2 separate regions of the Homo sapiens genome follow, and region 2 is linked to region 1. Evidence: fine-mapped expression QTL. A gene starts in region 1. The other region holds a variant in brackets. All regions are shown on one strand. Distances are between the middles of the regions. Region 1 holds the start of SMIM26 (small integral membrane protein 26). Region 2 overlaps DTD1 (D-aminoacyl-tRNA deacylase 1).

Region 1 (5,241 bases):
GAGACTGTAATCCAAGTGAGAAATGAGGCCTAAACAGAGACAGGGTATTTAGACAGAGGTGACAGAGGATGTCAGGTGAGATGATTCCAAGTTCCTGGCTTGGGCAATTTCTCAATCACTCTCTGAATCAGGGAAGAGAAAGGGAAGGTTTGTTTCCTGTTGGGAGTGGCATTGATAAATTCAATTCGGAACATTTTTTTAGTTTCAGGAGCTTGTGGAATATGCAGCCGAGGATGCATAGCAGGTTGGCAGTAACATGAATTTGCTTTCAGAGAATCTGGAGTAGATTTGAGAGTTATTAACATATAACATAGGTATCATGAGTAAGGCTGATGAGAAGGATGAGAAGAGACGCAAGCTTGAAACAATACCAATTTTTCTGTTTTGTCTATAACTATTGAGCTATAGTTCACATATAATAAACTGCACCCATTTAAAGCATACAATTGGATAAATCTTGACAGAAACCACCACAATAATCAACATACAGAACATTACCATCACCTCTCAAAGTCTCCTCAGACCCTTTTAGCCCTTCCCTCTCTCCATGCCCTTACTGCAGACAACTACTCATCAGCTTTCTCCCACTGGAGTTTGCTTCTAGAATTTCGTGACTGGTTTCTTTGGTGTCTAGCTTGCTTTTTCACTTAGCATAATCCATTTTGAGATTCATCGTATGGTTGTATTTATCAGTAGTTCTTTTTTTTTTTTTTTTTTTTTTTTTTTGAGAAGGAGTCTCACTCTGTCACCCAGGCTGGAGTGCAGTGGTGTAATCTCGGCTCACCACAACCTCCGCCTCCTGGATTCAAGTAATTCTCCTGTCTCAGCCTCTGGAATAGCTGGGATTACAGGCGCCCGCCACCATGCCCGGCTAATTTTTGTATTTTTAGTGGAGACGAGGTTTCACCATGTTGGCCAGGCTGGTCTCGATCTCCTGACTTGAGGTGACCCACCCATCTTGGCCTCCCAAAGTGCTGGGATTACAGGTGTGAGCCACCCGTACCCAGCCAGTAGTTCCTTTTTATTTGTAAGTGGTATCCCACGTTTTGTTTAGCCATTTACTCGATGGGTATTGGGGGTGGTTTCTATTTTTTCCTATTAAGAATAAAACTATGAACATTCATGTACATGGCTGTGTGCAGACACAGGTTTTCATTTCTCATGGATAACTAGAAACGGAATGCCTGGGTTATATGGTAGGCATATGTTCAACTTTTTAAAAACTAAGTTTTGCAAAGAGATTGTAACATTTTATGTTCCCATCAATAACAGTTCCAATTATTCCAAATCCTTACAGCTCTTGGCATTCTCAATCTGATTTTAGCCATTCTAGTAGGTGTGTAATGGTCTCTTATTGTATTCTTTTAATGTCCATTTCTGTGATGACTAATGATGCTACTGTGCTTATTGGTCATTTGTATATCTTCTTTCGTTCTATTCAAATTTATTGCCTGGTTTTTAGTTGGGCTGTATTTTTATAACTGAGTTGTAAAGCGTCCTCATATATTCTGGATCCAAGTCCTTTTGTTAGATATATGTTATTATGAATATTTTATTCTGTGGCTTGGCTTTTCATTTTCTCAACTGTGACCTTCAAAGAGCAAAAATTTTAATTTTTTTTTAAAAGCCCTATTTATCCATTTTCGCTTTATGCATATATATATAAAATGAGATGGGGTCTCACTATGTTGGCCTTGCTGGTCTGGAACTCTTGGGTTCAAGCAATCCTCCCTGCTCTACCTCCCAAAGTGCTGGGGTTACAGGCATGAGCCACCCCGCTTGGGATGCCTTTTTTATTCTAAGAATTCTGTGCTTATTCCAAGATGGCAAACATATTCTCCTGGTTTTTTTCTAGGCTTATATTAAATAGTTTTAGCTTTTACATTTAAGTCAGCGATCCATTCAGAGTTAAGTTTTTTATCTATTTCTGTAGGGCAGAACATCAGTTTTTAAAGGGTGGGCAAGGTGAAAAGAACCCTGAAGGATACCAGGGAAAATGATGTTTCTGAAGCCATGAAAGGTGCAGGTGGGGTCAGTGGTGGCAAATGCTTTCGAAACCAAGTTTGAGTGTGGCTGAAAAGTACTTAACGTTAATTTACCGGGCCTACCTTGTGCCAAGCACATCACACTTGCTCTTAAGTTGTTCAGTCTATTGAGGGCATCTTGCTTTAAAAAATGTATGCATAAGACAAAAGCTGGAGGTGGTCGGAGTCGAAGGAGATTTTTTGTTTTTGAGACATGGGCACGTTTGTATGAAGGATAAACGTCAATAATGAAGATGGGGGAGGACTTAGGGTGTCAATGAGGGGAAAGGCCACTGAGGCTGGAAAAAATAGTACCCAGAGCCTAGTGGAGGGATTAGCTTTGGCCTGGAAGTATTTAAAGTTCACCCAGAGTTCCGGAAAGAAAAATGGAGGAAAAGAAGAGTTGCGGGGAGAGACAAGCGGTATCCCTGCAAATCTGAAAACTGGAAGAGGAATTGGAAGTAACCTTTTCGGATACCGTCTGGAGCCCACGAAGGCATTACAATTTTGCAAGTGAGAAGCTTCTCCTCTAAGTTGTCATTTAGTCCTCGTCACGTGGTAAAAAGTATCGCACGCCCACAGTTCTACACCCGAAAGTCCGGACACCTGAGCGACTTTCCGGGCCAGAGGCCCCAAGGTGCATCGGGGCAGAGCCGGAAGCGGACGCTGAAAACTGGCGGCTCCTTAATGGTTCCGGCGGCAGGGACCGCAGCGACGCCCTCACCGGAAGTCCCGCCTCTGCCGTGGGCCTGCGAGAATCGAGGCACTCGCTGGCGTACCCATGTATCGAAATGAGTTCACGGCCTGGTACCGGCGGATGTCGGTGGTCTACGGGATCGGCACCTGGTCTGTGTTGGGCTCACTGCTTTACTATAGCCGGACAATGGCGAAGTCGTCAGGTAGGGCTCTTCGGCGGGGCCTGCCCCGGAACACACGGCCTTCGATGAGAGTTCCCCGGGGGTCATGGAAACAACTTCCCTGTCCTTTAAATCCCAGGTTTATTCTGCAAAACTAATTGAAACGGGTGCTAACAGCCGTTTGTTATAATGGAATCTGCAAAGAACTAGACTCCAGGAATTATTAATACCTTGTAAATATTGTTTCCTAAATCTGAATCATTTACTGGATAGGGCCGTCCCCATATTCAGAATTGGAGGAATCTGTGTAAAGTGCAAGGTGGACTTTCAGAGACTCTGGCCGGTGATTTTTAAAGAGTGATGCTTCAGTACTACTGTCCCTCATCGTATATGGCGAGCAATTTCAGTACTTTTAGCAGCCAAGGCGTATTAAAATCTTCCAGTTACTAAGCGCAAAGGGAGAAAAGTCTCTCAGCTTTGAAAAATATGCTGGAAATCTGTAGAGACATTAAGTTGATTAGTGTGGTTGCTAGGGGCTGAGGGGTTGGGGAGTTGGGGAATGACTGCCAAAGGTATGGATTCCTTTTGTGGATGAAAGTATTTTTAAATTGATTGTGGTGCTGGTTGCACAAATCTGAATATACTAAAAACATTAAATTGTATATTTTAAGTGGGTTAATCGTATATGTTAATTATATCTCAGTAAAGTTGTTGTGTAAAAACTATGCTGAAGATTACATTTGGTGATGAAGCTGTCAGTGGCCTGAAAGTACATGTGTCCAGCATTAAGCATTTAAAAACATTTTGGCCGGGTGCAGTGGCTCACGCCTGTAATCCCATAACTTTGGGAGGCCGAGGTGGGAGATTGCTTGAGCCCAGGGGTTCGGGACCAGCCTGGGCAACATGGGGAGACCCCCATCTCTACCAAAAGAAAAAGAAATTTTTATATATAATATTTTATATTTACTTTATATGTAATATATGGTAAAAATACTTTACATTTATATATAAAGTAAAAATATTTTAATGTCCATATTTATGTTTTCTTTCTTTCGTTCTTTTTTTTTTTCTTTTTGACAAGGTCTCACCCTGTCGCCCAGGCTTGAGTGCAGTGGCATGATCTCGGCTCACCACAACCTGCGTCTCCGGGCTCAAGTGATTCTCCTGCCTCAGCCTCCCGAGTAGCTGGGATTGCAGGCGCAGGCCACTGCTGCCCGGCGAATTGTTTTATTTTTTTTTTGAGACAGAGTCTAGCTCTGTCGCCCAGGCTGGAGTGCACTGGCGCTATCTTGGCTCACTGTAACCTCCATCTCCCAACTCAAGCAGTCCTCCTGCCTCATCCTCCCCAGTAGCTGGGGTTATAGGCCCATGCCACCACGCCCAGCTAATTTTTGTATTTTTAGTAGAGATGGGGTTTCACTACGTTGGCGAGGCTGGTCTCAAACACCTGACCTCAGGTGGTCCACCTGCCTCGGCCCCCACAAAGTGAGATTGGGATTACAGGCGTGAGCCACCGCACCCAGCTTTTCTTTTCCCTTCCTTTTCATTCCTTCCTTCATTATTGGGGTTGGAGAGAGTGGATGTAATTCTTACCTTAGTTAATTTCTAAGACTTTAATGACTGCTTTCTAAGTTAATAATTCAGGTGTTCTTTTTTTTTTTTTCTCTTAATGGTGATAAAGTAGACCAAAAGGATGGCTCAGCAAGTGAAGTACCCAGTGAACTCTCTGAACGCCCAAAAGGATTTTATGTGGAAACAGTTGTCACATATAAAGAAGATTTTGTTCCAAATACAGAAAAGATCCTCAACTATTGGAAATCATGGACTGGTGGCCCTGGTACAGAACCATGACTGGCTGCTGAATTCTGAAAACCAGGACTTGGTTCAACATTTAAATTTGATAGTTGCCCTGATTCCCATTTTGGGTTTGTGAAAAGTGTATGTATTTAAATTTGCTGTAAAACATAATCACTAATAATATGCAATAAATATTTTCTTGAAGGAAACTATCTGCGTTTTCTTTTTTTTTTTTTTTTTTGAGACGGAGTCTTGCTGTGTCACCCAGGCTGGAGTGCAGTGGCTCGATCTCGGCTCACTGCAAGCTCCGCCTCCCAGGTTCATGCCATTCTCCTGCCTCAGCCTCCCGAGTAGCTGGGACTAAAGGCGCCTGCCACCATGTCTGGCTAATTTTTTGTGTTTTCAGTGGAGACAGGGTTTCACCGTGTTAGCCAGGATGGTCTCCATCTCCTGACCTTGTGATCCGCCTGCCTCAGCCTCCCAAAGTGCTGGGATTACAGGTGTGAGCCACGGTCCCCGGCCTACTATCTGCATTTTCAAGAGGTGTTCCTCTGTATTTGCAT
Region 2 (5,241 bases), 93 kb after region 1:
CCCTTTCTGTGTAGGTATCTGGGGGAAGAACATTCTAGGCAGAGGGCATAAGAGTCTGAGATGTGTGTGTGTGTGTGTGTGTGTGTGTGTGTGTGTGTGTTTCCCCCACCCCTGTGTGTTGTTGTTGTTGTTTTTAAAAGATTTAGCTATAGGTCTGAATACCAAGCTATAGCTAGTGTCTCTTCTATTTATACTTAATTTCTTTTTTTTTTTTTGAGACAGAGTCTCGCTCTGTCGCCCATGCTGGAGTGCAGTGGCGCCATCTCGGCTCACTGCAAGCTCCGCCTCCCAGGTTCATGCCATTCTCCTGCCTCAGCCTCATGATATTTGTACTTAATTTCTAATAATTAAATGTTTGTTATGCTTTATGTCTTTGCCATAGATATTAATAGATGAAAATGTGGATGAACTTTGATGTTCTTTTCTGAGATGAAGTCATTGTGCTAGCCAGTTTCATTTCTCAATGTCTGTTAATGGTTTGTCATTCGAGTGCAACCCCATGTAAACACACAGGTAACTTGGTTAGTAAGTTGTAGGAAGAGGAAGATCTCTGACTTTACTTTTTCCTATTCTACTGGTTAAACATGACTGACATATAAATGTTTATCTGTTTCACAGAGTCAGTCTTTATTAACACTCCCCATGTTAGCATCAAAGAAGAAAGTTTTGGTACAAGCAGCCTTACCCACTTATGTAGGGGTGGGACACTGATTAGCAGTTGGTGTGACTGTGGTGCAGAGTGAGCCTTGCACTTAGAGAAGCAGCCCCCTGATGCCCCAGGCTTGGGTGTGGCATCTGACAGCTTTGGACAGGTCACTTACCTCTCTGTAGAAAGGTGGCACATTTGTGCACTCTGTAGAAAGAATGGCATCTGGCACATTTTAGGAATTGAAAATGAACTTTATTATCTGTAGTTCTAAGATATCTAAATGAATTCTTAAAAAAAAGAAAAAGCGTAAGCAGAGATCTCAAATGTGCATGGCTGCTTTCTTAAGAAGAATTTATATTTTCAAAACTAATACTTTTTGTATACTCCTCAAGAAAGTTTTAGAAAAGTGAAACAGACATCTTTTCTTTCTGGGACGTAGTCTGATGGATGCAAGCCTGAGTCAGGTGCTAACAAACTTCGTCAAAAGCAGTGCCCAGCACTGGTTTGCACCTTTGGCCCTGTTGCTCCCCACCATGAGTGCCCAGGCTGACCTGTGGAAGGGGACTCTCCCATTCTCCTCGATTTGCAGACTCTTTCCTCCCTCCCTTTATGAACAGCTACAAGTACATGTGCCCTTTCCATTATATTCATGATGTTTAATTTCTCTTTTGTCATATCAACTTAAGCTTGAAATTGAGATTACTTAACCATATCTTTTAATGTCATGCTCAGGTTTGTTTAATTTTTTAAATGTTGTCTTTTATAGAGTTTATTATGGTTAATCAAAAAATATATTTTTTTAAGAATGAGTTTATATTCTTTGGAGGGACATGGATGAAGCTGGAAACCATCATCCTCAGCAAACTAACATAGGAACAGAAAACCAGACACTGCATGTTCTCACTCATAAGTGGGAGTTGAACAATGAGAACACATGGACACAGAGAGGGGAACTTCACACACTGGGGCCTGTCAGGGAGTGGGGGGAAAAGGGAGGGAGAGCATTAGGACAAATACCTAATGCATACGGGGCTTAAAACCTAGATGACAGGTTGATAGGTACAGCAAACCACCATAGCACATGTATACCTATGTTAGCAAACCTGCACGTTCAGCACATGTATCCCATAACTTTAAAAAAGAAAGAAAGAAAGAAAAAAAATATTTTTTTACCAGCTGGGCATGGTGGCTCACATCTGTAATCCCAGCACTTTGGGAGGCCGAAGTGGTGGATCACTTGAGGTCAGAAGAGGAGTTTGAGACCAGCCTGGCCAACATGGTGAGACCCTATCTCTACTAAAAATACAAAAATTAGCTATGCGTGGTGGTGGAAGCCTATAATCACAGCTACTCGGGAGGGTGGAGGTTGCAGTGAGCTGAGATTGCACCACTGCACTCCAGCCTGGGAGCCAGAGCGAGACTCCGTCTCAAAAAAAAAGTATTTTTTATTTTTATTTTTTGAGATAGGGTCTCGTTCTGTTGCCCAGGCTGGAGTGTAGTGGTGTGATCATGGCTTACTGCAGCCTCAACCTCCCAGACTCAAGCAATCCTCCCATCCTAGCCTCCTGAGTAGCTGGGACTATAGGTGCACACAAGTACGCTTGGCAAATTTTTGTATTTTTTTGTGGAGACAGGGTTTTGCCATGTTGCCAAGGCTGGTCTCGAACTCCTGAGCTCAAGTAATCTGCCTGCCTTGGCCTCCCAAAGTGCTGGGATTACAGGCATGAGCCACCGTGGGTGGCCCAAAAAAGAAGCTTTTATTTAGCAAAGCAGAAACTGAAAGAAAAAGGAAGAAAGAAAACAAAAAGGCTTTTTATTACAAAAAAAATTATTTAGTATAAAGAGAGTTTAAAATAGACATCCTATCGGCTCATTTTAGCAACTTTGAGAAAATTGTGAAATATAAAATATTAAATAAATCCAGGGGATATATTTTGACTAGATAAAAATTAACCCTATATACCATAAACAAATTCAGAAGAAAAAAGTTAGGCTAGGAAAAAATATTTGTAATATTTTAAATTGAATTTTGTATTGAGGTTACTATATGTCACATGCAATTGTAAGAAATAATACAGTGAGATGCTGTGTACCCCTCACCCGGTTTCTCCTAACATGGAAGCATCTTGCAGAACCACAGATAATATCCCAACCAGGATATTGACAGTGATTTTATCTACCCACCTTTAGGCTGAGGTTCATTTTCTTTGCTTCTATAGATGTCTTGTTGATCCAGCACTGTCTTGCCTCCATTTTTATACCTTTGTCAAAAACTAGTTAGACTTGTGTGGTCTGTTTGTGGGCTCTGTTTTGTTCATTCATCTTTGTGCCTATCCCTCTGCCATTATCACTCTATCTTGATCACTGTAGCTTCATAGTAAGCCATAATGTTGGGTACAGTATTTCCTCCCACTTTATTCTCCTTTGTTAGACATGTTTTTAAGCAGTTCTAGGACCTGTGCCTTTCTGTATAAATTTTAGAAAAAGCTGTCTGTG[A/T]CTACAAAAAATGATGCTGGGAATTTGATAGGAATTACATTAAACCTGTACTCAATTTGCAGAGATTTAACTTTTTTACTGTGTTGAGTCTTCTAGTCTTTTTTTTTTTTTTTTTTGGGACAGAGTCTTGCTCTGTCGCCCAGGCTAGAGTGCAGTGGTGCGATCTCAGCTCACTGCAAGCTCTGCCTCCCAGGTTCATGCCATTCTCCTGCCTCAGCCTCCTGAGTAGCTGGGACTACAGGTGCCCGCCAGCACGCCTGGCTAATTTTTTGTATTTTTAGTAGAGACGGGGTTTCACCGTGTTAGCCAGGATGGTTTTGATCTCCTGACCTCGTGATCTGCCCGCCTTGGCCTCCCAAAGTGCTGGGATTAGAGGCGTGAGCCACTGCACCCAGCTGAGTCTTCTAGTCTTTAAACATGGTATTCCTCTCCATTTATGAAACTTTGTTTAAACAAAGTAATAATATTTGGAATCCATAAAGAGCACCTACAAATCAATAAGGAAAAAAAGGCTGAAGAGCCATAGGAAACGGAGAAAAGGCTGATAACAGGTAATGTCCAGAAGAAATATAAATGGACATTAAGATTTGAAAAGAGACCAGGCACAGTGGCTCATGCCTGTAATCCCAGCACTTTGGGAGACTGAGGCAGGAGGATTGCTTGAGGTCAAGAGTTTGAGACCAGCCTGGGCAACATAGTGAGACCCTGTCTCTACAAAACATATAAAAATTAGCCAGGCATGGTGGTACAAGTCTGTAGTCCTAGCTACTTAGAAGGCTGAGGTGGGAGGATCGCTTGAGGCCAGGAGTTCAAGGCTACAGTGAGCTATGATTGCACCACTGCGGTCCAGCCTGGGTGACAGAGCGAGACCCCATTTCTTAAAAAAAAGTTGTGAAAAGACGTTCAGTTTTCCTGATGATCCAGGAAATGCAAGTTACAAGCTCCCATGTTTTGCCTTGTTAGATAGGTAAAAATTAAAAATCAATAATACTAGCAATTTTTGTTGGCCAGGCTGGTCTCGAACTTCTGACCTCAAGCGATCTGCCTGCTACAGCCAGGCTGGTCTTGAACTCCTGACCTCAAGCGATCTGCCTGCCACAGCCTCCTAAAGTTCTGGAATTACAGGTGTGAGCCACCATGCCCAGCTGGGGGTGGGGGGGAGAGTATTTTTGGAAAGCAGTCAGCAAATGCTGAGTAAAATCAGAACCAGACCTAACCTGACTGAGCAATTCCACTTCTGCAAGCTGCTCCAGAAGCACATACACATGTGCAGAAGGGTATTGGTAGAAGGATGCTCAATACAGCGTTATCCAAACAACCAAAATGCTAATCAGTAGAGGAAAGGTTACACAAAGGGTGTCTTGTCCATAGTGTAGAATACTGTGCGCCAGTTAAAAAGAATGCAGTTGACCTATATCCTATGTGTACTGACATTTCCAAAGGGATAATAGGAGAGAAGTCAAATATTCCCCCCTCCTTTTTTTTTTGTTCCACTTTCCTTTTAAATAGATATAAAACAGCCATCTTGTCAGTTCTGGCCTTCTTGTCACATTGTTGAATGGACACAGCTGCTTCAGATAACTCAGTTGTGGCTCAGGAGGTGAAATTACTGATAAATTAACTTTCTTTTTATGGCTCTTATCGCAAAGTCATTTATATTGCTTTTGTTGTGTAGTGGGAATGGGGAATGAGGGTCCAGGGCCTGGAGAGGCTGGGGTTGTGACTGGGGCAGGAACCATGTGTCTCTGGTTATGCCCAGTGGTCTTATCCTCTCACTTCCCTGCCCCTTTGGTATCCTACCCAGGTCAGAAGGACAGTGTTAACCTCTCTATTAACAATGGCTTTTCCTTTGAAAAGGTCTTAATAGGGCTGGCATCCAAGTTTCATGGGATGCCCTAATAGGGCTGGCAACCTTGTTTTCATGATCTAGTTTGGTAGAAAAGTTTCATAGAAAGTGTCCATATAGCTGGGTGTGGTGGCTCACATCTGTAATCCCAGCACTTTGGGAGGCTGAGATGGAAGGATCAATGAGTCCAGGAGTTCTAGGCTAGCCTGGGCAACATGGCGAGACTCTGTATCTATAAAAAAAAAAAATA

What was found. PIP is the estimated chance that this variant, and not a neighbour inherited with it, causes the effect.
Region 2: its variant is the best candidate, but not a certain one, in a credible set for the expression of SMIM26 in whole blood (TOPMed, PIP 0.57).

What each region holds. Positions count from the first base shown.
Region 1 is chr20:18,564,674-18,569,914 of GRCh38, forward strand. SMIM26 (small integral membrane protein 26) reads left to right here and starts at 2,759. Exons shown (of 2, transcript NM_001348957.2): 1 at 2,759-2,923; 2 at 4,563-4,887. The coding sequence starts at 2,806. The coding sequence ends at 4,732. RefSeq lists an enhancer at 2,447-2,546 and a silencer at 2,610-2,892.
Region 2 is chr20:18,658,129-18,663,369 of GRCh38, forward strand. The region is part of intron 4 of DTD1 (D-aminoacyl-tRNA deacylase 1); the gene reads left to right. Among named protein-coding and RNA genes, the nearest start is that of DTD1-AS1, 38 kb to the right of the region's middle. The variant A/T (reference allele first, on the strand shown) is at 3,146.